4 linked regions of the Homo sapiens genome follow. The protein of the gene in region 1 purifies or fractionates together with the protein of each later gene. This does not show direct contact. Each region holds a gene or a part of one and is shown on either strand. Other genes may lie near its edges.

Region 1 (8,687 bases):
GAGTGCTGCTGGCATACAGTGGGTGGAGTTCGGGGATGCTGCTAGAAGTCTTACCATGCACAGGACAGCCCTCCCACAACAACTAATTCTCTGGCACCCAGTCACTGGAGCCAGCTTGCAAAGCCCTGCCCCGAAGCATCAGAGAATACCAAGGCCTAGAAGAGTGGTGAGGAATGTCACATGCTCGGGTGACTGCTGAATACATGGCAAACCCAGGATCCCAGCAGTGCTCCGAGGGCCCCCACTATGGGAGAAGACAGAATAAACTGTTCCTTAGAGCCCGTTGGATCTGGTCCCGTGCCGTGTGACATGAAGCATGTCCCTTAATGCTGGTGAACCTGTTTCCTCATTCATAAAATAGGTCTGAAAGTACTTCCCATCATAGGGTTATTGTGAGGATGATGTGACTTGTGTAGTAAGTGCTTAGCACAGTTCTGGACACATATTATGCCCTAAAAGGTTGCACTTTTATTTTCCCCAAAGTGTTGTAAGGATCCTGAGAAGGGAGTGGTGGCATCTGGTTTGAAGAATCTGGGGGGGCTTCTCAGGGGAGAAGCTGTTTGAACTTGGCTTTGAAAGTTGGCAATGATTTGGACAGGTAGGGATGGGGAAAGGTTATTGGGGTAGTGAGATGGTTTAAGCAGAGGCCAAGAAGGGAGAGGAGGGAGTGGGGAGTGGGCTTTGGGACACCAAGTTCAGCTGGAATGGATGGGATACCTGAAGTGAGCACCCAAGGAGGTAGAGAGAGGAGGGCTGCACTTTGATCCAGGACACCACGGCCTTGACCTCCCGCTCACACCCGCCCCCACTCAGTCCTGCAAACCTGCTTACAGAGGCACAGGGCCCCCCGGCCACCGGGTCCTGCCCCGGGCTGGCAGACCAGGCCCTGGCTGGCGTCGCAGACGTGGAGTTGGTCGCAGGGCTCCCCCAGCCGCCGTGCACATACCCGGCAGCAGCCACAGCCATCCAGCACCAGGGGTACTCCCAGCGGGCATCGGGGAGGTGGCCAGGGGCAGGTACATGGTGTCGGGCACAGCTGGGTACGCACCTGAAGAGACAGAGACCTCACTCAGCCACGGGCTTTCGAGGTGGGCAGTGAGACCCTCACAACCAGCCACTTCTCTGCCAGGCTGGGTAGTGTGGTGTCCACACCTTAGCCTCAGAGCCATGCAGACCTGGCCTCAAAGGCCAGTAGTCCCACAACATGCCCTAAGAGGCAGTATGGCATGTAGTTATGGGCAAGGACTCTGGACTAGAGTTCCAGTTCTTTATTTTTTATTTTTATTTTTGGAGTCAGAGTCTGGCTCTGTTGCCCAGGCTGGAGTGCAGTGGCGCGATCCCAGCCTCACTTCAACCTCCACCTCCTGGGTTCAAGCGACTCTCGTGCCTCAGCCTCCCGAGTAGCTGGGACTACAGGCGCCCACCACCATGCCTGGCAATTTTTGTATTTTTAATAGAGATGGGGTTTCACCATGTTACCCAGGCTGGTCTTGAAATCCTGAGCTCAGGCAATCCGCCCGCCTCGGCCTCCCAAAGTGCTGGGATTATAGGCATGAGCCACTGCACCTGGCTAGACTTCCAGTTCTAATTCTGCCCCTTATTAGCTGAGTGACCTTGAGGAAGTTACTTAAGCATTCTGAGCCTCAGTTTCCTCAAAGTATCTAACTCAGAGGATTGCTCTGAGGAGTACATGAAATGCTGCACAGCAAACCCTCAGCACAGGGCCTGGCATGCAGTAGGCGCTCACTGCACTTAGCTTTGATGATCCTTGTTGTTAATGGTGGCAGAGGGCTCAGCCCCAGCCCTCTGGGAGCTTACAGAAAGGCAAAAGCAACAAGTCAAGGATGAAAATGGTAGGGTCTGGTACATTTTCCAGCATACGGATACTTATCTTAGGACTGAATAAATTGAACCATATCATGGATGTTTTTGGCCTTTCGATCCATTCAGCATGTGTCCCAGCTCTGGAGGTACATCACATCAGCCAGGAGACTTGGGAAAATACAGACCCCCAACCCACTCTGGGGCTTACAAAATCAGAAGTCCCAGAGTCAGGGACCTGGAATCTTTATTTTTAATAAGCTGTCCAGTGGCTTCTGAAGCTCAGCTAGGTTTTCAGCACCTCTGCCCCAGTCTAACCTCCTCCCCCTGCCAGGTACGGATGGGGAAACTGAGCTCCAGAGAGGGACAGGAACTTAGCACACGTCAGTGTGTTCGATTCAGGGCTGGGAGCGTCCCCGGTCCTGCTTCCCAAGTGAGGACTCAGGGACACGGGATGGGGGTAGACTGTGTCCGTAAGCCAGGGACCCACTCCCCAGAGACAGGATCAGGGTATCAGCCCATGTGGCCTGCCTGACCCTCGCCACCCACATCAGAGAAACAACCAAAGCATACAGCAGGTGCCGTGAGCTCCCTGTCTGCCCATTTGAAGGTGGGGACCAAGAAGGAAGTATAATTCAAGATGCTTCCAGTGGCCCCATCTTTGGGGGGCCAAGTTTGAGTTTAGTAGGATCCTTAGGGGATGAGGGTTTCATCTAGAGGAATGGAGGCTTGCAGTTTATAATGATGGAATTAATGACCTCATATCTCCTGTGCAGCCCCAAAGCAGGCAATGACCCCTTTGCTCTGCCTCACCCTCTGCCCCGCCCAGTGCCCCCACTACCCACAATCCTGCAAACCTGCTTTCAGTTCCCGGCAACTCCCACGCCGGCCACTAGGAGCCATTGCAAACTGGCTGACCAGCCTCTGGTGGGGGCCACAAAGTAGGAGGCGATCACAGCCCCCACTGAGACAGCACTGAGTAGCAGATGGACACACGGAGCTAGGTGTCTGGCTGCCTCACAAGGGAGTGGATCCCATCGCTGCAGGCTGTTCAGATTCTAGAGACGATGGCCTAGCCTCGCCCCTCAAGGTGTGGTCTGAACTAGCAGCAGCAGCGTCATCTAGGAGCTTGTCAGAGAGGCAGCATCTGGAGCCCCTCTATAAATCCGAAGCTGAATTTTTATATAATAAATCCGAATCTGCATTTTCTTTTCTTTTTCTTTCTTTTTTTTTTTTTTCTTTTTTGAGATGGAGTCTTGCTCTGTCACCTAGGCTGGAGTGCAGTGGCACGATCTCGACTCACTGCAACCTTCGCCTCCCAGGTTCAAGCAATTCTTGGGAGGCCTCAGCCTCCCAAGTAGCTAGGATTACAGGTGCATGCCACCATGCCCAGCTAATTTTTTGTATTTTTAGTAGAGACGGGGTTTCACCATGCTGGCCAGGCTGGTCTCAAACTCCTGACCTCATGATCCACCCACCTCGGCCTCCCAAAGTGCTGGGATTACAGGCATGAGCCACCACGCCCAGCCCGAATCTGCATTTTCATAAATCCACAGGTGATTCACATAGAAACGGTCTAGGCTTTTGGGTTCCCTTCTAAGTCAGAGGTTCAGCTCCCTTGGCTTGTGGGCAATGGAGGGAGGACTGTCAGAAATGACTCTCAGGTCCCTCCCACCTGAAAACAGGAGTGCCAGGAAATAGACCAGCAGCTGTGCACCTTGGCTCCCACTGTGGACCCCTCTACTGGCCATGCTTGTCAGGGGGCAGGACTCTGTAGGCCCCGATACCCAGGAGAGGCTATTAATGATATCAACTATTCTAGTGTACAATTATCTCATGTGATACCATATGTATGTCATGTGCCAAGTGCTGTTGTCTCATTTACCCCTCCAATGTGAGGTGCCATCATTATGCCCATTTTAAAGATGAGAAAACTGGAGCTCAAACCGTGTAGTAACACAGCCAGTAAGAGACAGAATCAGGATTGACATCCAAGTTCAAGTTGACATCCAAGGCCCAAACTCAAGTTGTCCCATTGTGCCTCAGTTTCCCCAGGGCCTTGCTGTGATATCTGGTGGTGGGGGGCAAGGCTCATGATATCTGGGGCAGGAGTACTGGGCATGGAGTTTTTTGGGCAAGAGTTGAGATTCAAGTTCTGCCAGTGACTTGCTACGTGACTGAACATGTGGACAAACGGCTTTGGAAGGTGGAGGTGAAGCTCAGTTTTCTCCTCTGTAAACTGGAGTAGAGACAACCTGTTTCTGAGTGATGATGGAGATTAAATGAGGTTCTGGCCAGTCCTTGATCAATGTGATTTTGCTTGTGTCCAGGTGTCTGCCTCCTGCCCCGGTCCACAGCCAGGAGCCCCGGAGCCAACGGCCAGCCTGGAAGACTTACAGTTCTCCCTCTGAGGGTTGCTGTGGCTTTCCATGTTGTGGTGACTAAGTCCCTGTGTTTCTGTGCAGTCCCTGCTTCCTGGGACCAGGGAAGAATGGTCCCGTAAGTCTCACCCTAATGGCAAGTCTAGGACAGCTTTACTTTGTTCTCGTATAATCCTGGGCCCCTTCTCCCTCCTAGAGCCCCAAGTCCCCTATTCCAACTACCCAAGCCACCCACACTGGCATCATGCCCTACCCATCCCCTTTGGAAGAACAAACAGCAGGACAGGATGCCAGCGTGGTTCTCAGGCTTCCCAGGCACGAAGACTTGGAGCCTGAGGGAGAGAAGCTCCTGCCCGTGCTCCTCAAAGGAGCGTGAAAATACAGTGAGATCGTGGCTTGTGGTGGGGCCGATTCCATGGCTCTGGGAACTCAGCATTTGCCGAGGGGATGACAAGGCTTAGCAGCTGTGGCCTTGGTCCAGTTTGGGCTTGGGGAGGCACAGACTGGAGTGCTTCTCCCCCTACATCCATGTCATTCTGGGCTCCACCATGGCTCTCCTCTATTGCTCTGACCTTTCTTTGCTGTGTGGCTTTGGGCAAGTTGCTTACCCTTTCTGAGCCTCACTTGACTGAAAACTGGGGTTGCAAGTTGCTTACCCTTTCTGAGCCTCACTTAACTGAAAATTCCTTATGGGATTGTTGTGCATGTTAGACAAGGTAGATGTCCCACAGGCTCTTTGGTGAATGTCCCATGCAGCATTCAGGGATAAGGCCATTACTCCACAGAGGTGTCTCCTGTTCCCCTCTAGCTAGGGCGGGCGGGTCACTCACTGCCTAAGAGTCCAACAGCATTGATGCCCTTGCAGAATGAACCTTCCAATCAGCTAGGCATCCATCCAAATGCTGGCTCAGAGTTAGGCCAAGCATGTCATGTCTTGAGTGCCCCCATTCATAATGAGGATACATTAAAGTCCTCTTCAATTTGCCTGGTAAGTTTGATGAATGATCATGAATGGTCTTCACAGAGGCCTCACAAACTGTATACCCTTCACCTGGGAAGATGCTGAGGCCCAGAGAAGGCAAGACACATATCTGAGGTCACACAGCAGGGCTGGCCGGAGGCAGCTCTGAGTTCCAGGGAGAGAAGCCCTGCTTAGGCATGGGGGCCAGACTGTGCCCAATGTGGGGCCCTGGAGGAATTCTGCCAAGGGGGTCCTTGGCTGCGATTTTACATCCCCACCCCCTCCACACCCAAATAGTCAGCAGTGCATTCCAGGGCCCGGGCCTCCTTACCTTTGAGAGGAGGCAGAGGAGGGAGAAGGCCAGGAGGTGGGTCTTCGGTGTGCCTCTCATGTCCCCTGCAGAGCCAGCTTTGAGCCTGGGAGGCGGACCTGTGAGTCTTTATGTTCCGGCAGCTGTGAGGTCACTCCCAGGCACACACAGGCACACGCACGAGTACACACGCGCGCGCGCGCGCGCGCTCACACACACACACACACACACACACACACACAAACACACTAGCTTTTTCATTCCTTGCTTCGCTTCCCATCCTCATGGCTCAAAGGATGAGCCCATTTACCTGAAGGTGAAACTGTGAAGGCCACCAAGGGGGTGCCTGTCCGTGTGTGTGTGTGTGTGTGTGTGCGCGTGTGTGTGTGTGAAAGCCTGAGCCAGTGCCAGCACCAAGAGCCTGTGACAGCTTGCAGAGGCCTCTCCAGCTCCTTCCAGCCCAAGAGGGTCCTAGCCCTGCTGTAGTTGTGAAGCCCTATTCCAGACCCCCTGTCCGAACCCCAGCGGGGCTGCAGATACCAGAAGCATTCAGTAAACAACCCCTTTGCAGAGCTGACCCAAGGTCTCCTAAGCTCCGTGGCCCTGACTCTGGGTAGCCGCGGCCCAGCCTGCGGTTTCTGGCAGGCAGATTGGCAGCCACCCAGAGGTGGGTGTGACCCAGAGCAAAACTTCCCTGGGCGGCCTGTTTGCTCTTGGCAATAAGGGGCCTCCCTTGGCCTGCCTCCCGGCTCTGGAAGGGGGCCCGTGGTGGGCGAGTCCGGGCAGGCTGGACCTACTATGTGCCAGCGCTTGCTGGGCACCGCTAGATGATGGGGTCAAGCCAAATCCATTTGGTTTCATTCGGCCGCCTCTGAGTTCGCCTCTGCAGGAGCTGGAGGCACAACACTGACCTGAGGACAAGGCCCAGAGAGGGAGAAAACAGAGGGAAAACAGGTGGAAGTTCAGGAATACCAGGCAAGGTCCCTTGCTCAGACCAAGAGTGAGGGACACTTTCTGATGGAGGTGCCATTTCAGAAAGCCAAGAAAAGAGAGGGTGAGAGAGGGCAGAATGTTCCAGGCCAAGGGAACAGTACGTACCAACGCCTAGATGTCGGACATAGCATGATAGCCTGCTTATTCTGGGAGCCAAAGCGCCTGGTATGAGTGGAGCCTTCTGTGCAACGGGAAATGGTGATGTCTGTGAAGGGTGAGACACACAAGTTCACATCACCAAGATTTGGGGACATCTACTATGTGCCAGCCATGGGGGCGGGGGACAGAAAGACATGGGCTTTGTTTGTAGAATTTGGCAAAGATAAAAGAGGTGATGTCAAGGGCTGTCTGGGGCCCCCATTACCTCCACCAGTAGTTGTCCAAACCTCAAAGTGATCTAGCTGGATAGCAGAGGTTCCAGAATGGGCGATTGGTGAGGAAGAAGTGTGACTTGATATAGTGGCAAGACGGGGATTGTGAGCATGGAGGAGATTCCCCACGGGTGCTGTCCCATCGGAAGAGGCAATGGAAACGGAAGGTGAAGATGAAAGTGTGGGATTTGATTATTTATGGCAGGAAGAGGTGGCCAGGGTGGAGATGGGGGTCTGGAAACTTGGAGGAAAAGAAACAGAAGGGATCTTTTAAATTTTGTTTTATTTTTTGGGATTCTTGTGGAAATGCTAATGTTTTAGTCAGAAGCATGCCTAGAATAATTTACATCCACAGTGGATCATTTTTAACACCCCTCTTCCTTCATAGTACAAAATTATTTTCAGTAATAATCATGAAACAAAACAAATATTTTTCATGTATGAATTAAAATTTGCACTTACCAAACAAAATCATTACCATTCACAGTTCACACTGTTTTACTCTTTTAAAAACTGTAAATACAAATCAAAACTCCAAGTAGTTTCGTAAAATGACAAAATTGAAATACCCTTATCGTCATCTTTCCCATCATTCTGCGTTCATAGTTGATTTCACTCTACTGTTTAAACACAGAAATACAGCTGGGCCGGTGGCTCACGTCTGTAATTTGGGAGGCCAAAGTGGGAGAACCACCTGAGATCAGGAGTTCAAGGCCAGCCTGGCCAACATGGTGAAACCCGTCCCTACTAAAAAAAAAAATACAAAAATTAGCCGGACGTGGTGGGTGCACACCTATAGTCCCAAGTACTCAGGAGGCTGAGGCAGGAGAATTGCTTGAACCCGGGAGGTGGAGGTGGCAGTGAACCGACATCTTGCCGCTGCACTCCAGCCTGGGCGACAGAGAGAGACTCTGTCACACACACAAAATAATAATAAAAATAAATGCAGAAATATGAATGCTGGACGGTGGAGACAGGAATGCATTCAAAGCAAGCTTGGAAGATTCCAGAGTTGTGAGGAGCTTACTCTCAACTGATGTGTGTTCCTGAGACCACATGCTCTGGGGGCAACTATAGGATTCTTAAAGTTCTCCAAGTCAAGTTGACTTCCATGTAGAATATGTTTATTAAAGGATAAGAATAAAAATGTGCTGATTTGAAGCTTTACATATACATTATTAAACCCCAACAGTTACTGCACCAATTGTTAGAACTTAGATCAATAAAGGGTATTTTCAGGACAAAGTATTTTACCACTGAAATTATTTAGATCTGCCATTGCACAGTGATCATAAAAGCAGACTGACTTCTCATCAGTTTTATTTTATCTTTAAATTCTGTAGGCCCCCCACCCGTTATTGCCTGCATCCAGGAAAGGTCACTCCGACTTTCCTGTCCTCCCTAGGCCACTGATATTAATAAAAATAAAAGCAATTGTGTATAGCACCCAGCAAGATCCAGCCCTTGTGCTAAGCACTGTTTATAAAAAGCAGCATTTCTAATCCTCATGATCCACATCTCAATTGAAAAAAGTGAGGTTCAGAAAGGTTAAGTAACTTGCCTAAAGCTACACAGCTAGAAAACAGAGCCAGGTTTTCAGTGCGGGTTCATATGACTCCAACACCCAAGTTTCAGTTTTTGATGCTGTTTATTTCTGCTACTGTCCATAGAGCTCTCTGTGATAATGTTTTTTAAGTTGAGAGGTAATGTATATACAGAAAAGTGCTTAAAGTGCACTAATATGAAGTGTAGAGCTTGACAACTCTTTCTTTCTTTCTTTCTTTCTTTCTTTCTTTCTTTCTTTCTTTCTTTCTTTCTTTCTTTCTTTCTTTCCTTTCTTTCTTTCTTTT
Region 2 (8,598 bases), on another chromosome or scaffold:
TTGGCCAAATTAGCAGGTAAGAAAAAATTATTAGTGTTTTTTATTTTATTTCATTCATGTGTTCAGTAAAGTTGAACACATGGATGTTAATGGACCATTCGGGTTATATGGTTCATATTTTTTGCTCATTTTTATGTCATGGTGTTTATCTTTTCTGTGCTGATTTGTAAAAGCTATTTTAAAACCCTTCATCTGCCATATATGTTACATTTCTTTCCTGCTTTCTGCCACCTTCCAATTTGTTACCAACTTTCTTCTCCAACCTTGGGCCACTGGCATATACACTCATTTTAAATATCAGAACTTGTAGTGCTCTTTGAAATGCAGACAGACTATGGTTCATTCTGCAACTGCATATTAGTTAACAGGCAAAAATACCTTAGTAAGAGAAAGTGTCTTTTCCTTCTAATGTAAAAAAAAAAAAAAACCTAACCCCCCCGAAGCACTAAGGTGTTTATTTGTTTATTTTTTTGAACAGGGTCTCACTCTGTTGCCCAGGCTGAAGTGCTGTGAATCACAGCTGACTGCAGCCTCGATCTCCTAGGCTCAACCCATCCTCCCACCTCTGCCTCCCAAGTAGCTGAGACTACAGGCATGTGTCACTACACCTGGCTTTTTTTTTTTCTTTTTTCTTTTTTTTTAGAGATGGGGTCTCCCTATGTTGACCAGGCTGGTCTGGAAGTCCTAGGCTCAAGTGATTCTCCTTTCTCCTGTCTCAGCCTCCCAAAGTGCTGGGATCATAGGCATGAGACACCATGCCTGGTCAGTTATTTAAGAAAATAAATATTAGACCATGCAGAAATAATGCTATCCTAAAATTTGTGAGCAAGTACAAAGTTCATGATTTAGAAATTTAAACAGTTTAAACGCAAAATGAAGTTCTTTTTAATGAATACCAAAAAACTGACTGAAAATCTAGTGAATACCTTTTATGCTTCAGACACCTCGTATAGAGAGTCTTTACCCTCAAGCATCTCGCAGTTGAGTAAGGGTGACATGTAAGAAATAGGTTACAATCATTGTGACAAGGACAACTGCAGTATTATTATGTACACACAAGGCAATGAACAGGCAGAAGTAAAGTTTTGTCATGAGGCAGGATGAGGCTATAGAAGAGGTGACAACTAAGCTAAAGAAGCCACTCAGGATGTCAGAAGACAGCTGTTCAGTCAAAAACAGGCACAGTATCCAAAGGAACTCATTTGATCCCTAAAATTCTGTTAAGATGTGCTGTAGGTGGGGCGCGGTGGCTCACGCCTGTAATCCCTGCACTTTGGGAGGCCGAAGTAGGTGGATCACCTGAGGTCAGGAGTTCAAGACCAGCCTGGCCAACATGGTGAAACCCCGTCTCTACTAAAAATACAAAAATTGGCTAACATGACGAAACCCTGTCTCTACTAAAAATACAAAAAAAAAAAAAAAAAAAAAAATTAGCCGGGCGTGGTGGTGTGTGCCTGTAGTCCCAGCTACTCTGTAGACTGAGGCACGAGAATCGCTTGAACCCAGGAAGCATAAGTTGCAGTGAGCCGAGATCGCACCACTGCACTCCAGTCTGGATGACAGAGCGAGACTTCGTGTCAAGTAATAATAATAAAAAAAGATGTGCTGTAATTGTCTCCGTTTTACAAAAGAGGTCAAGTAGTTGACACAGGTCCCACGCTAGTGAGGGTTTTGGGATTCAAGCACAGACCACCTTCGCCCCTATGCTACACCACCTCAGGCTGTCGGGAGATAGGCGCCCAGTCAAAAGGCACATGGAAGAAAGCCCACGACTTCTCAAGCATTGAAGCAGGAGTGGCGCATCGGTATTCTCAACTTCAAACTTTGAGAACAGTCATGGTAGGAATGCATTTTATTCAAGAATGGGTTCAGGTGAGGGTGGATATGGGCACTGGGTTCAAAGGACAAATTTGGAGAATTCATGATCCAGGAGAGTGAACAAATAAGGAAGGGCTAAAGAGATCCTCGAAGTTGAAAGGTTCAGAGTTAATGTCCTCTAAGGAGAGCCAACAAGGGGTTACAAATGCTGAAGTCATCAAGAAAATGTGCCTGTCTTTCCTTGAGACTGGGAAGGAGAATTAGGATGACGAAAATCCAGAGGATGGTAAAATAGCTTGACTTCAAAATAACAGGCCGGGCGCCGTGGCTCACGCCTGTAATTCCAGCACTGTGGGAGACCGGGGTGCGGGGGGGTGGATCACCTGAGCGCAGGAGTTCGAGACCAGCCTGGGTAACAGGGTGAAAACCCGTATTAAAAAAAAAAAAGCCGGGCGCGGTGGCCCACGCCTGTAATCCCAGCACTTTGGGAGGCCAAGGCGGGCGGATCACTTGAGGTCAGGAGTTCGAGACCAGCCTGGCCAACATGGTGAAACCCCATCTCTACTAAAAATAACAAAAATTAGCCGGACGTGATAGCGGGCACCTGTAGTTCCAGCTACTGGGGAGGCTGAGGCGGGAAAATCGCTTGAACCCAGGAGGCAAAGGTTGCACTGAGCCCAGACTGTCCCACTGCACTCCAGCCTGGGCAACAGAGCAAGACTCCGTCTCCAAAAAAAAAAAAAAAAAAAAAAAAGCAAGAAAAAGAAAGAGAATGGCGAGGCCCAGAGAGACCGAAAGTCCCACCAGAGGGTACAGAGCTAGCTCAGCCCTAATGCCGGCCCCGCGGTGCCTTTCCGAGCTCACGGCCTCCCCTCAGCATCCGGGTTTCGGCCTCGGAGCGCCAGGGACGCCACGAGGACGCGCCCCACACTTGCGCTTCTGGGTTCCAGCCCCCGCGGCCCCCAACAAATAAAGAAGGGAAAGTGCTGAGGGTGACGGCCCCGGGGAGCGCTGCGGCTCTACGTCAACCTGCGGCGGCCGCCGACTCATTTGGGGCCACGCTGGTTGCATTCGTCACGCCGGCGATGCCTCTCAAACCCGCGGCCTGCCGAGGACGTTCCCACACGGGAGACCCCAGCGACGCGGGCGCATCTGTGGCTCTCGAGAACCGGGCCGCGGAGCCGCCGCGAGCGCAAGCGAGGAATCGGCGACTGCGGGGGTGGACAGCTGGGGCTTGTAGTCCCCTCGCTACCCTCTATTCTGGAAGAGGCGGGTCGCGGCCGCTGAACTCCAGCTCTGCGCCTGCCCAGGCGGCCGCACGCTCAGGGGCGTGGCATGGGTGGGTCGTGAGTTGGGCGGGGCCCACAGGGCGTGCGCGACGCAGCGGCGCGGCGCGTGGCGTAAGGGGCGTGGCGCCAGTGGGCGTGGCGTGGCGCAGTGCGAAGGGACGCGGTGCGCATGCGCGTGAGGGCTGCCGCGGGTGGGTGGTATCGAGGCCTGTCGGGTCAGGGCGGTTCGCGGGTGCTGTCAGAGCTGGGCCGGGGCCCCTAGGCAGGGTAGCCGGGTCGTAGAGGCGGGGGCCGGTCGCGGTCGGTGGAGCGGGATGAGGATGTAGGAGGGGCGGACGTGGCGGAAGCCGCGGGGTCCGCGGGGTCGGTGCCTCTAGGGAGCCAGGGAGGCCTTTCCCGAGGCTCCTGGGGAAGAAGAGGCGAAGCGAGAGTCCCTGGGGAACCCCCACTCCACTCCCAGCTGGAGACTGGGTTGTGTCTGCATGGACCAGAGCCCACAGTGCGAGTTGCTATAGGCAACCAGCCAGGGTGGCCAGCTCCTTCCCGTTTGCCCGTGATGTTCTGGTTTTGGGACCAAAGCATCCTAGGCCTCCAGCCCACTGCAGTGACCGAATTCTGCGCCCCCTGCCCATCTTCTCCCGCAGCTTCCCTAGATTAGGCTTGGGAGGCAAGAGGAGGCCTCCTGACCTTTCACACTGCCTTTTTAATATTAAGATGAAGTCACACTCCACAACTTTCTTCCAGCCAGGCCCAGACATGTCCGTCCTTGTAAGTTAAAAGCTTCCATGGGAGCCTTCCTTCCTAATCAAGGTAGGTAGACTACAGGAAGGTACATCTTGTTTTATATTTTGTCCTGTAGAAGTCAGATTTCAGCCCAGTTGTGTAGGAGTGAGGATGAGCCTATGCTTATATCAGAGCTTTGAGTACAGAGACATTTGGTCTGGAATTTTAGTCAGCCTCTTCAACCCCAGAATTTATAGGTTCAATCAGAACAGACATTAGCTTAAGTTTTCCCATCAATCGTCTATCATTAAACTGGCAAAATCTAAATAATTAGAAAATATGACAAAGATGATCCAGACAGAGATGTTCAACTTTTTCCTTAATTCAAAAAGCCTCGTGGTGGAACATCGGACCCATTCAAGAGGAAGGATGAAAGCTCTATATAGGAACACGATGTGAATGGAAGAAACCTGTCATTGTGAGGCTGGCTTTTGATTAGTCATCTGATGTCTTCCCTAATGTGACATGACTTTGAGGCCATAAACTTCAGTGGCTAAGCTGTAGTTTCTCAGCCTGCAGTTAAATTGCAGAAATGATAGGGCTTACATTAGTTTTGTTTTTATTTGATGTTGAAGATCTTTGAGTCACATTAGAAACGATGAGTATTTTTCATGTGGCACTGATGAGTTAATTCATATTATTATTTTTTGAGACAGAGTCTCTATTGCCCAGGCTGGACTGCAGTGGCACGATCACGGCCCACTGCAGCCTCGACCTCCTGGGCTCAGATGATCCTCCCATCTTAGCCTGCCAAGTAGCTGGGACTACAAGTGCACATCACCACATCCGGCTAATTTTTTTGTAGATATGGGGTTTTGCCATGATGTCGAAGCTGATTTCAGACTCCTAGGCTCAAGTAATCCTTCTGCCTTGGCCTCCCAAAGTGCTGGGATTATAAGCGTGAGCCACTGTGCCAGGCCAATATTATTCCCCAAAAGAAGGAAGTTGGGTGTGAGGTCCTGCTCCTGTGGTCACCGTGAGGTTTTTTTTTTTTGTTTTGGACTCTTGCCCAGGCTGGAGTGCAGTGGCACAGTCATGGCTCACTGCAGCCTCAAGCTCCTGGGCTCAAGTGATTCTCCTGTCTCAGCCTCCCTGGTAGCTAGGACCACAGATGTGCACAACTATGCCCAGGGAATTTTTAAATTTTTTGTAGAGACAGGGTCTCACCATGTTGCCTGAGCTGTTCTCAAACTCCTGGCCTCAAGCAATCCTCCTATCCCAAAGTGCTGAAATTACAGGCATGAGCCACCACACCTGGCCACCACTAGTTTTTGTAATGGGAGCAGGTTCCATATGAGATGGAGGAATGGATTTCATGATTGTCTTTTTAATTTCTTAGATCTCCAAGAAATTGGACATGAGGAAACCACTCTAAGTGTGACCACTCTAAAGCATTAGCAATCAGTCATTTCACTCTAGGGAGAAATCAGAGCTGAAATATAGAGGATAGGTAAAGTCCCCAATGTAGATATGTATTTTTATATTTGATTACTTGCTTTTTTTTGTTAGATGCAAATAATACGGCACTCCGAACAGACACTAAAAACAGCTCTCATCTCAAAGAACCCAGTGCTTGTATCACAGTATGAGAAATTAAATGCTGGGGAACAACGTTTAATGAATGAAGCCTTCCAGCCAGCCAGTGATCTCTTTGGACCCATTACCTTGCATTCTCCATCAGATTGGATCACCTCCCACCCTGAGGCTCCCCAAGACTTTGAACAGTTCTTCAGTGATCCTTACAGAAAGACACCCTCTCCAAACAAACGCAGCATTTATATACAGTCCATTGGTAAATACTGGTAATGTGCTGGTTTTGGTTCAGTTTTGCAGTGGCGCTCTTGTCAGGAATAGTCCAGGCTATGGGTCTGATTCAGATGGGCCGTTTTAGGATCGTTTTTGATATTCATTGCGGCGGTACAAGTTTTGTAGCCAAACTGACTTAAAAGATAACATTTTGTTTCTTTTTGTTTCATAGCAACACCAATGAATGATAAAGGTTATTGAAAATTTAGAGTTGGTTTTGTTTCTAATTTGAATCTTCTTACTCATAGACTGGGTAAACACTGAATAATCATCTTAAAGTCTGTTTTTAAATGTTCTTCCATATTGTAGGCTCTCTAGGAAACACCAGAATTATCAGTGAAGAATATATTAAATGGCTCACGGGCTACTGTAAAGCATATTTCTATGGCTTGAGAGTAAAACTCCTAGAACCAGTTCCTGTTTCTGTAACAAGATGTTCCTTTAGAGTCAATGAGAACACACACAACCTACAAATTCATGCAGGTGAATTACACGACTTTGCAATTCGAACTGAGTATATGTATATAATATACACTCATACATTTATGTATTTCTTTTTAAATAGGGGACATCCTGAAGTTCTTGAAAAAGAAGAAACCTGAAGATGCCTTCTGTGTTGTGGGAATAACAATGATTGATCTTTACCCAAGAGACTCGTGGAATTTTGTCTTTGGACAGGCCTCTTTGACAGATGGTATTCCGTTTTTGGCATTGTTGTTAGAAGCTTCTTCAGCTTGAGAATATTTGAAGATGTTAGAAGAGGGAAAAAATTCCAACCAAGAATCATATTGATATTTAAAATATTTTCAGTTGAGACATTATGCCATAATGGGAAGTGTGCTGTTGGTAGATTGTGATAATCTAGGTTCTGGTTGGCCACTCACTACCTACAGGACCTTAAAGGTAACAATACCCACATCATGGAGTCATTTGGAGATAATTTACATAAAAGTGCCTGTACATAAAAAGTGTGGATAAGCCTGGACAACATAGACCACATGTCTACAAAAAAATAAAAATTTAAAAAACTAAATTAGCTGGGCATGGTGGCACATACCTGTAGTCCTAGCTACGCAGGAGGCTGAGGTGAGAGGATTGCTTGAGCCCAGGAGGTTGAGGCTGCAGTGAGCCATGATCGAGCCACTGCACTCCAGCCTGGGCAATAAAGTGAGACCGTGTCTCAAAAAAAAAATGTATATATAGGCCTGGCATATATATAGGCATACAGCATAACAGCTAGTAAATGTCAGTAATTCAGTAGCAAGGTGAATTAAACCAATTACAGTTTGAGCTATCAATGGATGTGAAAATCTTGCTAATTATTTTTCAATTCTTTTCATAGTCATCTTGCACAGTTAGAATAGCCATAGACTAAGTGTATGCTTCTTTCTCATCATACGACATTTGTTTTTTAATTTAAAGAGTCAAAACGTCCATCTTTGATTTGAGATATGTAATAAACCTTGACTCATTAGGAACTCTGTATGGTAATATTAGGGATGGGAAAGGTTCTGCAAACCGGTCATATTTTTAACCTTTTTTTTTTTTTGTCATCTCTCTACTTCTCCCCTCCCCTTAATTATTGTTCTTATTTCTCTAACTTCATCCCTAAGAATCCAACACAGACTTGAAAGGGAAAAGGCCCCCTAAGGGGAGTGGTTCATTAGTGTTCTGGGGATGGGGAGTAAGTACAGGGACTATCCTGAGAGTTTATGGTCTGTCTGGATGTTACATTAGCCTTAGGATTTGTGTGGGGTGGTAAGCTTTTTGGGACAAATGTTTCTACTAGAGGTGGGGGCTGTAGGGTTATAGAGCCTCTTCCCACTTACTCCTTTATTCTTTATTCTCCATTTATGTGAGGTTTCTTGTGGCCCCCATGGCCCTACCAGCATGCACTCTTGGAGACGTGGGTCACTACTTTCTTACTGATTTTGGTGGTGTGAGGTAGCTTTTTATCATAAGTTTTCTCTTTTATTATTAACCTGATAGAGATGGAAACATTGAAAAATAATTCTATCTACCTTTTATTTTTCTTTTGAGACAGAGTCTCCCTCTGTCACCCAGGCTGGAGTGCAGTGGTGTGATCATGGCTCACTGCAACCTCAACCTCCTGGGCTAAAGGGATCATCCTGCCTCAGCCTCCCGAGTAGCTGGGACCACAGGACCACCACACCCGGCTATTTTATTTTATTTTATTTTTGGCCAGATGGGATTTTTTTTGGCCAGATGGGATCTCCCTGTGTTGGTCAAGCTCATCTTGAAGTCCTGGGCTCAAGCGAGCCTCCCATCTCAGCCTCCCAAAGTGCTTTGATTACAGGTGTGAGTCACCACACCCAGCTAAAAAAATAATTTTAAAACCATATGTTCGTTTATCTAGATATTGCTAGCTAACTTATCTTATGTGTTTGAGGAGGTCAGGAAACATTTCCCCAAACTGTATTTACTTTAATTCTTTTTTTGGTAAGTTTCTTAAATATTACATGACATAAAAGATTTACATAGGAAAGTAGCAGGATTAGACAGTGACAATATCTTAACACAGTGGTCTTGTTTTCTCCGAGTTTACAAAGATTGATATTTTTAAAGTGAGACGCATTGACTACGAAAAAAATAGTCTATTTGTAGGATTATTGGAAGAAGGAAATGTCCTTGCTGAAAGTAGTGAAATATGCTCACACTTGATTGGCCAGAGGGGGTTACTTGTGATAAAGGAATAGATTTAGTGTGCTCTTAATTTCCAGAATGCTATCTTTGCTTAATTTTCAAATATCAGTCTACATTTTCTGGGTAAAGGGAGGTGAGGAAGTTTGTTTTTGAATCAAATTAGATTGGACAAATCTACTATGGGTTTATTACTTTAAAAACTGAACGAGAGACATAAATAAAAGTGATCATGTAAACA
Region 3 (4,225 bases), on another chromosome or scaffold:
GTTGGTACTAGAAGAATTTTAATGGGAACCACGAAATCAACATAACTTGAAGAATTAATCTGCATAGTGAAATCAAAAATTTAAATCTAGACTTTTAAAGAAAAAGACACTGGTCATTTAAAAAAAGCAACTTAAATGTCTAACAAGGAAATCCAATTGGTTTATTTGGGACATAAATCTGAAAGCAGTCAACAAACTGTAATCTCAGAGGAGAGGGTTCATTTATCCATTACACCAAAGTAAAAATAATAAATTTCAGGTCAATTAACAAACACAATTTGATACAGAATATTATCATTTTATGATCAAACAAAATCTTTAAATATAGATTAAAGAAACACAAAGAGAAAATGGATTGTATAAATATATCATAAAGCTACTGGGCATTCATTACATTTTTAGAAAACAGGGAAATAATGGTTCTTCCTTTCCAAAATCTGGTTATGAACATAACTTTCCCTTAAATTCAAGAGCATTCCTCTACCCTTTACATTAAGGGAAATTCCCTTTGAAATGGTAACCAAAGATTGAGTTCCACTTTGCTTCCTACCCCATAAATATCAATAGTATTTATTCAAAAGTTATCCATAGCATGTAAACAAACTACTTTCCAAGCCTCACAGCAGAACAACTGGAGTGAGCACTGGGTGGAGTCAGAAAGCCTTCCACAGAGCCAGCTCTGCCCCTTAACGTGTGTGTCCCAGGTAAGTCAGTTAACGCACCTCGTCTGTTTCTTCATCAAGGTAACTGGGATTAACTACACTCCTACTGCTTATTCCCTATGGTTGTTGTGAGAATCAAAATAAGAAAATACATGGGAAAATGCATTTTAAACTTTATTATAAAGCACCAGAAAGAGTTATAGTGACCTTTCTAGGGTTTTCCTCTTTTTCATTATCTTCATCCTCAAAACATACACAAAAAGAAAAAATACAACTGCAAGAAAAAGCACCCAGAGCACCACTGGGAAAGAGTACACATGCTTCCCCATCTAGCGTATAATGGCACAATCGCGGCTCATACAACCTCTGCCTCCTGAGTTCAAGTGGTTCTCGTGCCTCAGCCTCCTGAGTAGCTGGGACTCCAGGCATGTGCCACCACGCCCAGCTAACTTTCGTATTTTTTGGTAGAGATGGGGTTTCACCATGTTGGCCAGGCTGGTCTGGAACTCCTGACCTCAAGTGATCTGCCCACCTTGGCCTCCCAAAGTGCTGGGATTACAGGCATGAGCCACTGCGCCTGGCTGGCTCTGAGTTTCTTAGGTTCTCACGCTTTCTTTTCAACAAGAGGTGAATGTGTGTATGAAATCACCAAGAAGGTGGGATGTTTAGGCTACAGCGAAGCCTGGTTAAATGTGGAGACAGAATAACCAAAACTCACCACTGTCACTTACTCCATGCCCACTCTGCTCCAGGTAATGTCCTGGATGCTTTCCTTTGGGACTCAGACTCTGCAGCTTGAATCCTGCACTTGTGCTTTACACATTGTGGGGGCCTGGAAAGTTCCATACCCTTTGTTCTCCAGGGTCCTCATCTGCCAAGTGAAAATACTAAGCACATCTATCTCACAGGAAAAAGTATTCAGGACAGAGTCTCGCACAGAGTGAGCATTCAGTAAGTTCTACCTAACTAATAGTCTACTGTTAGTAGATAATCCCATTACTATTAGTAGTAATCCCATGATGAGAGGTCAAGGAACTCATTAATGTCCAAATGGCTGCATAAACCCAGGACTAACTCACTCCAAAGCCCTTGCATAACCACTCTGCCCGCTGCCTCCGCTCATCAGTGTAACTGTGGAGGTGGGTGGCCCGAGTGTGAGGCCTGGCTCTGCACTGACTTGTTCTGTGCTTACTATCCTGGCCTCAGTTTTCTCAATGGTAACATAAGACATAAGATCATAGCAATGTGTGCCTCTGGATTGTTATCTAGGGTTAAGTGGGGTAATGAACGTGAAGTATTCATTACACAGGGTCTGACATACAACAGGCACTCCATAATTGTTAGCTAGGAAGCTGTTCAATTGCATTTATTAAGGTGTTTGCTCAGGCTGAAACCCAGGGTTCTGTTAATGGGCACTGCCATTTTCATACTGTTCTAATAGTGAGGGACGGAGGTGGGAAGACAAGTCAAAGAGGTGACTGGGTCACTAAGTGCCTGACATGGTGGCACTGACCATTTTCTCATAGTTAGATTTTTTCATCATCTCTCTTTCAGGAAAGTAGTATTTATCCTATTTTCAGATGATACCTTCTAAGGGGATATATCAGTCCCTAGGAGGTGAACAACGAATAGACAGGGGAAAGTCCTCCTCAGGGTCATCTGTCTGGGAGTTTAGGAGATAGCCCTGTTCTCCTGTTTCCCAAGGCAGAGTCTGTGACCTGATACCACTAAGCACTCACTTCTCTTAGAAGTGCAGCTGCTTCTGGAATTTAGTCTCCCAGCAGGAGAAATAAGAGTAAATAAATGTCCAGTGGAATCCACAGCAGACCCACCCTCACCTTCAGTTTTATTGTTTTGCTCCAAACATAACTCTGCTGCTTCCACTGCTCTGGGGCTGGTAAAAATGAGTCCCCCGTAATCTTCAGGATGAGAAAGCTGCACACCAAAAAGCAATAAAGACATTTTATACGATGGCTATGTTCAACATCTTCCAAGGAGCTAAGACTCAGAATTCCAAATGCTTCACAATAGTAGTAGGCAAACTAATTCCTTCCACCCATCCCCCCAACACTTACTGAGTGCTTACTATGTGCCTGGAACTATTTATTCTAGGACTTTTAGGGTACACAGGTGAATTCCTTATTCCCAGTATTTCCCTCAGGAAGCTCAGAGTCTAGGGCAGAGACAGTGAAACACAGGGTGATAAGTGCACTGCAGCACAGAGGGGAAGCCTGACGCAGCCTGGGATTAGAGTGGGGTGCAGGTAGTGGGGGAAGACTTGACCCGAATCTGTAATAAAAATGGGAATATTCAGGGGGTGATATCAATGCTGAAGTCCTGATTTTCAAAGAGGATAATGGTGATATCATCTACCGAACATTTACTCTGAGCCAGGCACTAGGCTGCTGTACATATCTGACTTCACTGAAGCTGTGGGCACTGAATTTTCACTCTGAAGCATTTGGAAGGCTTTACTGGACTTGTCTCCTGCAATTTTTATCACTCCTCACTGGAAGAAGAACTGAAGTTGTGGGCAGAAGCCCTGGGTTTGAGTCCCAGCCCTGTCTCTTACTTGCTAGAGGTCTTAGCTGAGTTGCCTAATTTGAGACCCCAATCTCTAAAACGGGAAAATAATACCTCCCTGGCCTGCTTTGCAGAAGTTGGGGGTGAGGGGTAGATTAAATGAGAGGATGAGTGAAAGGGTTCTAGGACTGCTGAGAGCAATGCAGGTTTGCTGCTCTCACCATGACCTGCTCTCCTGGGCCCCAATCTCTGAGTCTGGGTGGCTTTCTGGAGGGGCTGATAGAGGCTCAGTCAGAACCTCCCAACAGCAGCAGCCTCCTGGAGCCAGGTGAAGTTATGCTGCCATGTTTTAAAGTTTGGGAATAAAATAAGAAGACAGTAAAATAGTCCCTCTCTGGCTTCAGCTGGCAAGGGAGAAATCAAACACTAACATGGTGCTCAGTCACAACAGGCCTTACCTTCTCAGAGAAACTGGGAAGAGACAAAAACTCAAACGATAAAACAGGGATCAAAGTGGCTTCAAGTCCATATAATCCTAATTCCTGAAATGAAAGAATATAGTTCTGGATTGGCTAGGGCTGTTTTTAAAATAAGGGAACATTAACAATTTATTCTGCGTCAGTTCCTCTGAGGTTTTGCAAAACCCATCCCTGCCTGCTCCAGGCCCCTTGACTCAGTAGAAAGGACACTGTGGGATAAGGAGTCTCAGGCCACTTACCCTGATATACGGATCCTGGCCACAGTCATCTTCCTTCGCATCCTTCAGTAAAAGAACCTTCATTATTGCCTGGCAGTCCTTATAGGGCACTGCGACAGAGCAAGGAAACAGATCTTAATTAGATCTCAAAGACTCTTCCTAAGCAATTTCCGATGGGGACGGTACACAAGAAGAAGGCAATCAAATGCTTGTGGAAGAGACCTATCCCTCCTACACCATGACTTAGCACTAATGGGCTTGTTCTTTCTGAAGACCCCTGTCACTGATAAGGCCAAGAAAGAGCATGTTAGCAGTTGATATCACTTGGAAAGACAGATGAAAC
Region 4 (7,960 bases), on another chromosome or scaffold:
GCCCAAGTCCATATCTCCTCATCCATAAAGAGGGAAATAACAGTACTTATCTCACGGCTATTGTGAGAATTAAATTAATTAATACAAGTAAAGCACTTAGAACAATGATTTGGCATCAGTAAGCACTCAATAAAATGCTACGTTAATAATAACAGCAATAGGAGGAAGAAACAGAGGAGGAGGAGTAACTAATAACTGACAAGAAGAAAAACAGCTTCTAGCCCTCGTCCTTTGGTGACATAATTCGGACATCAGCACCTCCAGAAAGGCTGTTGTGACCACTACTCACAATGGCACTATGTGCCCCCACAGCATTTAGTCCTTAAACATTTACAAAGAATTTATTACATACCACAACTGGGTGGACAGAAAAAGAGATTCAGTGCATGCCTCTACTGTTGCCCTTCCTTCCCTACAATGGAGCACTGTGTGCCTGCCACCCCTACCACACTGAGAGAGGAGGCGTCACCTCCATGAGGCCTGCATATAGCATAGTGTGTGGCATTGCAGCACTCAATAAAGACAAACTAAAATTAGACTTTAGTCTCATAGATAATTCCAAAACACAGGACAAAATTGAGCACACTCCTACATTCATTCTCAAGGTAGGTTTTCAACACAGAACATATTTATTTGTCCTTACCAGGTCAAGGCCTTTTTAAAAGGCATTCAGAAGTTGAGTCATTAACACTATCACTTACTTTTTTTCTGTTTCAGTGTCCTGATTTCATCTTCACTCTAAATGTCAAGAAAAAAAAAGAAAAAAACAAATCATCTTTAAAAAACTGACCTCTAGTGTATCATCTTAGACTCACAAATACAAATGCCTATTCTGAGTCAATTTAATTCTTTCAAGAGCATAAATTCTTTATATAGTACACATTCTTCAAACAAACAGACAATGAGAAAACCAGAATAAGCTGTTAATGACTCCAAGGTTATAACAAAGTCTTAGGGAAAAAAGAATACATCATTTTGCTTATTTTCTACCTAAATCATCGTAACTTTGGGTTATAAGTGTTTACTGGCTAATGAAAGGCACAAAAATACACCATGGCACTTGGAGTTAAATTCAAGAGGACACAAATCATCTTACTTCCCAATTTAACCCTGGAGATGTCCCATAAGAAGGAGGTTGCTGAATCTCAGGACTCAACACAAAAGTGATGAGAAATCCCTGAGAAGCAGAAGGTGAAAGTACCAGCATGGAAGAGATACACAGAGCATACACAGAGCATAGTAGGCCAAGTGGCACCAATAGGGTTAGACAAAGGAAGAACTTTCCAGCTGCATCCTTTACTTTCCTTCCAACCCTCTACAATGCTTAAATCATGAGCCACCTGTTACTTTCTGTGGCAGAAAAGCAGCAATGCCAGTGACAGCTGAAGACAGCAGGATGCCTGTTGGGCAGCACTGGACATGGTGCTGATAACAAGAAACATCAGCAGGCTGGTCAACCTGGACATCCCCTCCTTATCCTACGGACTGCACGTTTATAAGGATGGTGGGTCAGGAAGAGTATGCCTGCTGTGAGATATGTGAGGCTCTCTGAGGGACAGACTACAGGGAAATGATAGCTACAGGACAGCAAGTGATTGAGCTCCTCATCCTGATACATATTACACTTCATATCTATGGATTTAACCAACCATGCATTGAAAATGCTGGGGAAAAAATGGATGGTTGTATCTATCTTGAACATGTACAGACTTTTTTTCTCATTCTTCCCCTACATAACGTAGCATAACTATTTACATAGCATTTACATTGTAGTAGGTGTTACAAACACATAAATGTATTAAGTATCATAAATAATCTAGGTATTATTTGAAAATGGATGGTTGTGCCGGGCATGGTGGCTCACGTCTGTAATCCCAGCACTTTGGGAAGCTGAGGCGGGAGGATCACCTGAGGTCGGGAGTTCAAGACCAGCCTGACCAACATGGAGAACCCTCGTCTCTACTAAAAATACAAAAAGAGCCGGGCGTGGTGGCACATGCCTGTGATCCCAGCTACTCGGGGGGCTGAGGCAGGAGAATTGCTTGAACCCGGGAGGCGGAGGTTGCGGTGAGCTGAGATCGCACCCTTGCACTCCAGCCTGGGCAACAAGAGCGAGACTCTGTCTCAAAAAAAAAAAAAAGAAAAGGATGGTTGTGTCTATACTGAACACACAGATTTTTGTTCTTGTCATTATTCTCTAAACAATGTAACAGAACAACTATTTACATAGCACTACATTGTATTAGGTATTATAAATGATTTAAAGTCACGGGAGGATGTGTGTAAGTTATATGCAAATACTACACCACTGTATATAAGGGAATCAAGTATCTGTGGATTTTGCTCTCTGAGGGAAGCTCCTGGAATCAGTCCTCCATGGACACCAAGAAGAAAGCTGATATGGAGGACTGTAATGTAAGTGTCAGTATTCATCTAAGTCCCAGGAAAATAGAAATAAACAAATAGAGGGGAAAATGCATAAAGAAAAATAAAAACTAAGGATTTCTCAGAATTTAAGGTGTAAGTCCTCAGTTGTAAGATGACAAATTAAGGTACATAAAAAAAAAACTCACATCTAGATACAGGTTAGCAAATTTTAAAATGTCAAATATAAAGAAACCTTCTAAAAAGCTTTGAGGGAGAAAAGAAGATTACCTAAAAAGGAACAAGAATCAGGCTGGCACAGACTTGAATAGCAATAATGGATGCAAAAAAATCAGAAAGAATCAACATCACATAGACTATATGTATCCTCTACGTATCTCTTAATAACATTTAAAATTTAAAATATCATATAGCAATTAAAAATAATTCCACATCTGGAAACTAAGAAAAACAATCCTATGTTAACAAAATAGAGAAATTACAAAATACCTACAGCCAGACATGACAACACTATATGTCTAAAGTTGTAGGGTATAGCTAAAATGGACCTAAGAGAGACTTTTATAGCTTTGAATACACATAAATATGAGCTAAACATTCAAGAAGCTAGAAAAAGAGTCAAAAAATAAATCACCCTAATCAAAGAAAAACCAATAAAATAGTTCATAAGTACAACAATCACTGACAAAACTACTGGTTCTTTGAAAAGATTATTAAAGTTTCATAAACTTTTAGAAACATTAACAAAACACAAGAAAGAAAGAAAACCAATAAAGATAGCAGAATGGCAATCAAAACTTTCCCTCATCCACCGCAAGCCATCTAATGGTTTTACCAAGTTCTACCTTACTTTCAAGAGCAGATAACATCTACCTACACAAATTTTTCTAGGAGAAAAAAAAAAAAAAGATACCCAACTTATTTTATGAGGCCAATAGAACCTTGATATTATAACTGGGTAATAAGAGTACATGAAAAGAAGGCTACAGACCAAGATTCACAAATGTAAAATCCTAAATAAAATATTGACCAATTGAATCCAATGGTATATAAAAGCAAATAGACATATTGCAGTCAACTAGAGTTCATTACAGAAATGCAGATGGTTCACAGAAAATCCATTAGTATTACTTATTGCATTAAAGAATGAAAAAAATGAACTTGTCTATTAAATACATGCAATGAAAGCATGTGATAAGTTAAATATAAAAACAGAATATAGGTCAGGCGTGGTGGCTCACTATTGTAATCCCAGCACTTTGGGGAGCTGAGGTAAGAGGACTGCTTGAGCCCAGGAGTTTGAGACCAAACTGGGCAACATGGCATGACTCCATCTATAAAAAAAAATACAAAAAAATAAGCCAGGCATGGTGGCACACACCTGTGGTCCCAGCTACTTGGGAGGCTGAGGTAAGAGGATTGCTTCAGCCCAGGAGGTGGAGGCTGCAGTGAGCAGTGTCTGCCCCACTGCACTCTGGCTTGGGTGACAGAGTGAGACCCCATCTTAAAAAAAAACAACAAAACTCTGAATATGGGAGTAGAAGGGAATTTCCTTAACTTGATAAAAACTATCTAACAATACCAACAGCAAACATTATACTTAATGGGGCAAGGCAAGTATGACATTACTAGAATTGTTCAACATAGTACCAGGGATCTTGACTAAACAAGACAGGCAACAGAAAAAATTAAAATAATAAGAACTGAAAGAGACAAATTTCTCCTTATTTGCAGATGATACAATCAGTAACAGAGGAAAAACTCAGAAGACTTACTAGGATTAACTTAAAAAGAAGTTCTTCAAAAGTGCTGGAAACAATTTCAACCAGAATATATCATCTATACCAGTAAGAACCATAATGTATTTAAGAAGTGATCTAAGAATGCATACATTCTCATTTAAACAACTGTAACAAAAGCTCTCAAAATTTTTCGTTTTCTGTACTCCTAAAAGTATTCTAATATTCTTTTCAAAAAACTAGTATTTAGTTTTGTCAATGATTGCTGTTATTTGATAGGTATTTTATGGGATTTTTTTTCTCTTCATGGATAGAACTAGTTAATACTTTACAATAGTTTATACTGTAACAGTAAACTAGTAATATTCGTTTACTAACAGTAATACTAAACTAGTAATAAATTTACAATAGCTAATATTGTAAAGATGTCAATTCAAAGCAATTATAATGAAAATCCCAAAAGAAGTTCTAGGAGAACTTGACAAAAGGACTTTCAAATTCATATGGAGGAGGCCGGTGGCTCACGTCTATAATCCCAGCACTTTGGGAGGCCGAGGTGGGCGGATCACTTGAGGTCAGGAGTTGGAGACCAGCCTGGCTGACATGGCAAAACCGCGTCTCTACTAAAAATACAAAATTAGTCAGGCGTGGTGGTGAGCGCCTGTAGTCTCAGCTACTTGGAAGGCTGAGGCAGGAGAATTGCTGGAAACCGGGAGGTGGAGGTTGCAGTGAGCCAAGATCATGCCACTGCACTCCAGCCTGGGTGAGAGTGAGACTCTGTCTCGGGGGGGAAAAAAAAAATCCATAGGGAAGAATAAAGGTCCACAAATAGTTAAGAAAAAGAAGAGTTAAACAATCACCTTATTTGAAAGTAAGATATATTACAATGCCATGGTAATAAAACAGTGTGGTATAGTTGCAAACAAATAATACAGTGAAATGGAACAGAACTCCCCAAAACAGCCTCATGTAAACTTGTTATATAACAGAGGTGGCATTTTATACCAGTGGACGAAAGGAAGAACTAACAGACCATGTTGGGAAAACAGTTTCTCTATAAGGAGAAAAAGTTATTATAGATCCCTACTGTACATCATACATACTAACTCCAAATGGATAAAATATCTAAATAGAAAGGTAAGCATAGAATAAGGAAAATTAGATAAATGCTATCTTTAAAAAGCACACAGTAGGTGGACTGATAGGACATATATTAAATACACTAGCATGGACACCAACTGGTAGGGAAAGGAATGGTAATGGTAATAGTGGGTGAAGAAGGAAAAATAATAAAGCAAAATAAGGGCCTTGCTAGTGGCAATGATGACAAAAAGCCATGGACTAAGGAGTTACTGTACTTCTGTTCACCTAAGGTCAACAAAATACAGATAGGTGTCAATCCTCAGAACTGAAGGATATCCAAGGAACATAAGAATATGTGTAAATTATGCCATATACAGAAATTTCAGTGTTTTTTTCTAAACCCTGTACATATTTAATAGTGATAGAAACCTTATCTTTAAAACATTCCATGTCTCCACTTTTACACTTTCCCTTTCTTTATTCCTTTGTGCTGAACTCTGGAAACACCTCAGCTCTATTTTCCTTACTATGAAAGAAAAGGTAGCTTTTTCCTTCTTCTCCAGAAGGGAATGAGCTAGTGGCCTGTAATTAACAGCACACTCTGGACCAAGTCAACAAGTATCAACTGGCTAACTCTGAGGGAGATTTTCCAATTTAAATACTAAAACTCATCATCTCACATCTAGGCTATTTAACAACCATAACATTTATTTCCCGTTACATTACCTCTGAAATAGAGAGTAATTTGGATTAATTTTAACATAAATGCATCTGTATTTGATTTCATAGTATTATGGGGGAAGGTGGGAAAGCTGAAAGTACATAGACATACCAGTTCTTTTATTCGTTTTCTGTGTCTACTATGTGGGTTGTTCAAATGACTGGTAAGATCAAATATTGTTGGTATTGCATTATCTCGAAGAACTGTCCTATAAGGACTCTGAAAAAGAAAATTGTGTTAATTCAGAGATGGTCCTTATAAATATATTACACATCAATAAAATTCTATGTTAATGACCTCCACAATATTCCTTCAACTCCAGCTCTAAAGTATAGAGACTTACAGAATTTGATGTCAGTTCAGGTCAGTCTACTATTTCCAACTGTGCCTGCATTTGCCCTTCTGGCAATCTATTATAAATTAAGAAACTGAATTGAAGGTAGGCATAAAATATAAAATGTACTTGCATTTTGCATATCTGTTTCTAATTCAGCATCCCAGCTACTTTATCTGTACTGTCCTTCCATGAGCCCACCAAATCTACAGGAGGTACAAGTCTCCCAAAATAATCTGCACTCTTGTATGTTCCATAATAATGCATCCCTATTTTACCTAATGTTCCACTTTTGCTAATATTACTGAGAAGCATCAAGGCACAGTGAAAATATTGGACTGGGACCCAGGAGACCTAGGAACTAGTCCAAACTCTACCAGTGAGTGACTCACTAAGACACCCTGGCTAAATTACTTTCCCTTTTTGGGCCCCAGTTTCTTTTTCTGAATAAAATTCTGGTATTGAACTAGATCAACATTTCCTAAAATGAAATTATTCACATACTAATGATCACAATGCTTGCCATTTCAGTTATATTACCATCTGTATTTTTACACAATCTACTCATTTTTTAGTTAACACTGTCTTAAGTAATAAAACTGTAGGAAGAATGATCTGATGTTATCTTATGTTTTTAAAAAAGTTTTTAAACATGTTTTTAACACATACTACAAAACTTCTAAAATAAAAATTGATTCATCTGCCACATGAAACCAACTCTCACGCCACAAGTGATACTGATATACATAATCACATTTTTGCAAATGCTAATCTAGGTATTTCTGTATCTCTTTCAAGTCCTAATCATCTTATGAAAGAATGATCATACTCTACCCTACTTCCTGTTAATTTCATCCAACTTGGCTAGAAGCTGGATGCATACTTAGATGGTAACGGTCCTACTGCCAGCCCTGAGGAGGCTGAGTAAAAGACAAGAAGCTTATTAAGAGGGACAGTAATAAATAACTGCTATTACACTCCCCTCAGACAGTCCAAAGAATAGTGCCTTTAATTTCTTCCTGAATTTGGAATGATAAAGATAAGACATACTTCATTTAAATAAGCTTTCTTTGAAGCAGTGATTATTTCAAAATATCTAAGCATGCTCAAAGAACATGCCAAACAAAAATAACAACTTCTAAATTTGTTCACCCAAGGAAGGGAGGTTGGGAAGACATGAAGGGAAAACATGTATCTAAATGGAACACACTATCTTGGGTTGTACCCAAAGAGTTGTTAAACACATTTGGGATGAATTTCTATTCAGAGTCAATATTTTCTAGTTCAATTCCATGCCATAATAGAAAACACAAAGATGATTCTCTGACTTCCTAGTAACACTCAACTTCTAGTGCTGGGCTCGTGATCCTGAGTCTACTAGGGAGGCTGAATGAGGAATTGGTTAGGGACACAATCACTGAAGGGAGTACAAGTTATTATATTCAAAGCTCCCCCATCTTTCACACCGAGCAAATGTCCCCAAAATAAGCAAAAACACATACACAGTCAATTCTTGATATCTTACTAATTATTAAATAAGGAGGGGAGGAATAAAACATTTTAACAAATTTTTAAAAGTCAAATCAAATTGATTTTCTATTTGCAAATAAAGCAAAGATATTATAGATCAGAAAACAGAATGTATGAATGAAAAAAATGACATTTTACAAATATTTATTTTGGCCAGGAATGTTGGCT

What was found.
Region 2: the proteins of CCN5 (region 1) and AMZ2 purify together in Homo sapiens (affinity purification with mass spectrometry, with the first as the bait; one large-scale study listed by BioGRID). This does not show direct contact.
Region 3: the proteins of CCN5 (region 1) and UROS purify together in Homo sapiens (affinity purification with mass spectrometry; one large-scale study listed by BioGRID and IntAct). This does not show direct contact.
Region 4: the proteins of CCN5 (region 1) and THAP12 purify together in Homo sapiens (affinity purification with mass spectrometry, with the first as the bait; one large-scale study listed by BioGRID). This does not show direct contact.

Annotation. Positions count from the first base shown.
Region 1 is NC_000020.11:44,712,258-44,720,944, reverse strand, and holds the start of CCN5 (CCN family member 5 isoform 1 precursor), read right to left. Parts: upstream 5,577-8,687; 5' UTR 5,555-5,576; coding exon 5,495-5,554; intron 4,321-5,494; exon of another isoform or gene 4,152-4,320; intron 1,049-4,151; coding exon 832-1,048; coding exon of another isoform or gene 824-831; intron 1-823.
Region 2 is NC_000017.11:68,244,789-68,253,386, forward strand, and holds the start of AMZ2 (archaemetzincin-2), read left to right. Parts: upstream 1-3,254; 5' UTR 3,255-3,917; intron 3,918-5,397; exon of another isoform or gene 5,398-5,399; coding exon 5,400-5,682; coding exon of another isoform or gene 5,683-5,692; intron 5,693-6,005; coding exon 6,006-6,179; intron 6,180-6,261; coding exon 6,262-6,390; exon of another isoform or gene 6,391-6,599; intron 6,600-8,598. UniProt on the Homo sapiens protein: Probable zinc metalloprotease.
Region 3 is NC_000010.11:125,812,534-125,816,758, forward strand, and holds part of UROS (uroporphyrinogen-III synthase), read right to left. Parts: intron 3,993-4,225; 5' UTR 3,967-3,992; coding exon 3,904-3,966; intron 3,728-3,903; coding exon 3,644-3,727; intron 2,598-3,643; coding exon 2,501-2,597; intron 1-2,500.
Region 4 is NC_000011.10:76,354,917-76,362,876, forward strand, and holds part of THAP12 (52 kDa repressor of the inhibitor of the protein kinase), read right to left. Parts: intron 6,148-7,960; coding exon 6,040-6,147; intron 739-6,039; coding exon 702-738; intron 1-701. UniProt on the Homo sapiens protein: Upstream regulator of interferon-induced serine/threonine protein kinase R (PKR). May block the PKR-inhibitory function of DNAJC3, resulting in restoration of kinase activity and suppression of cell growth.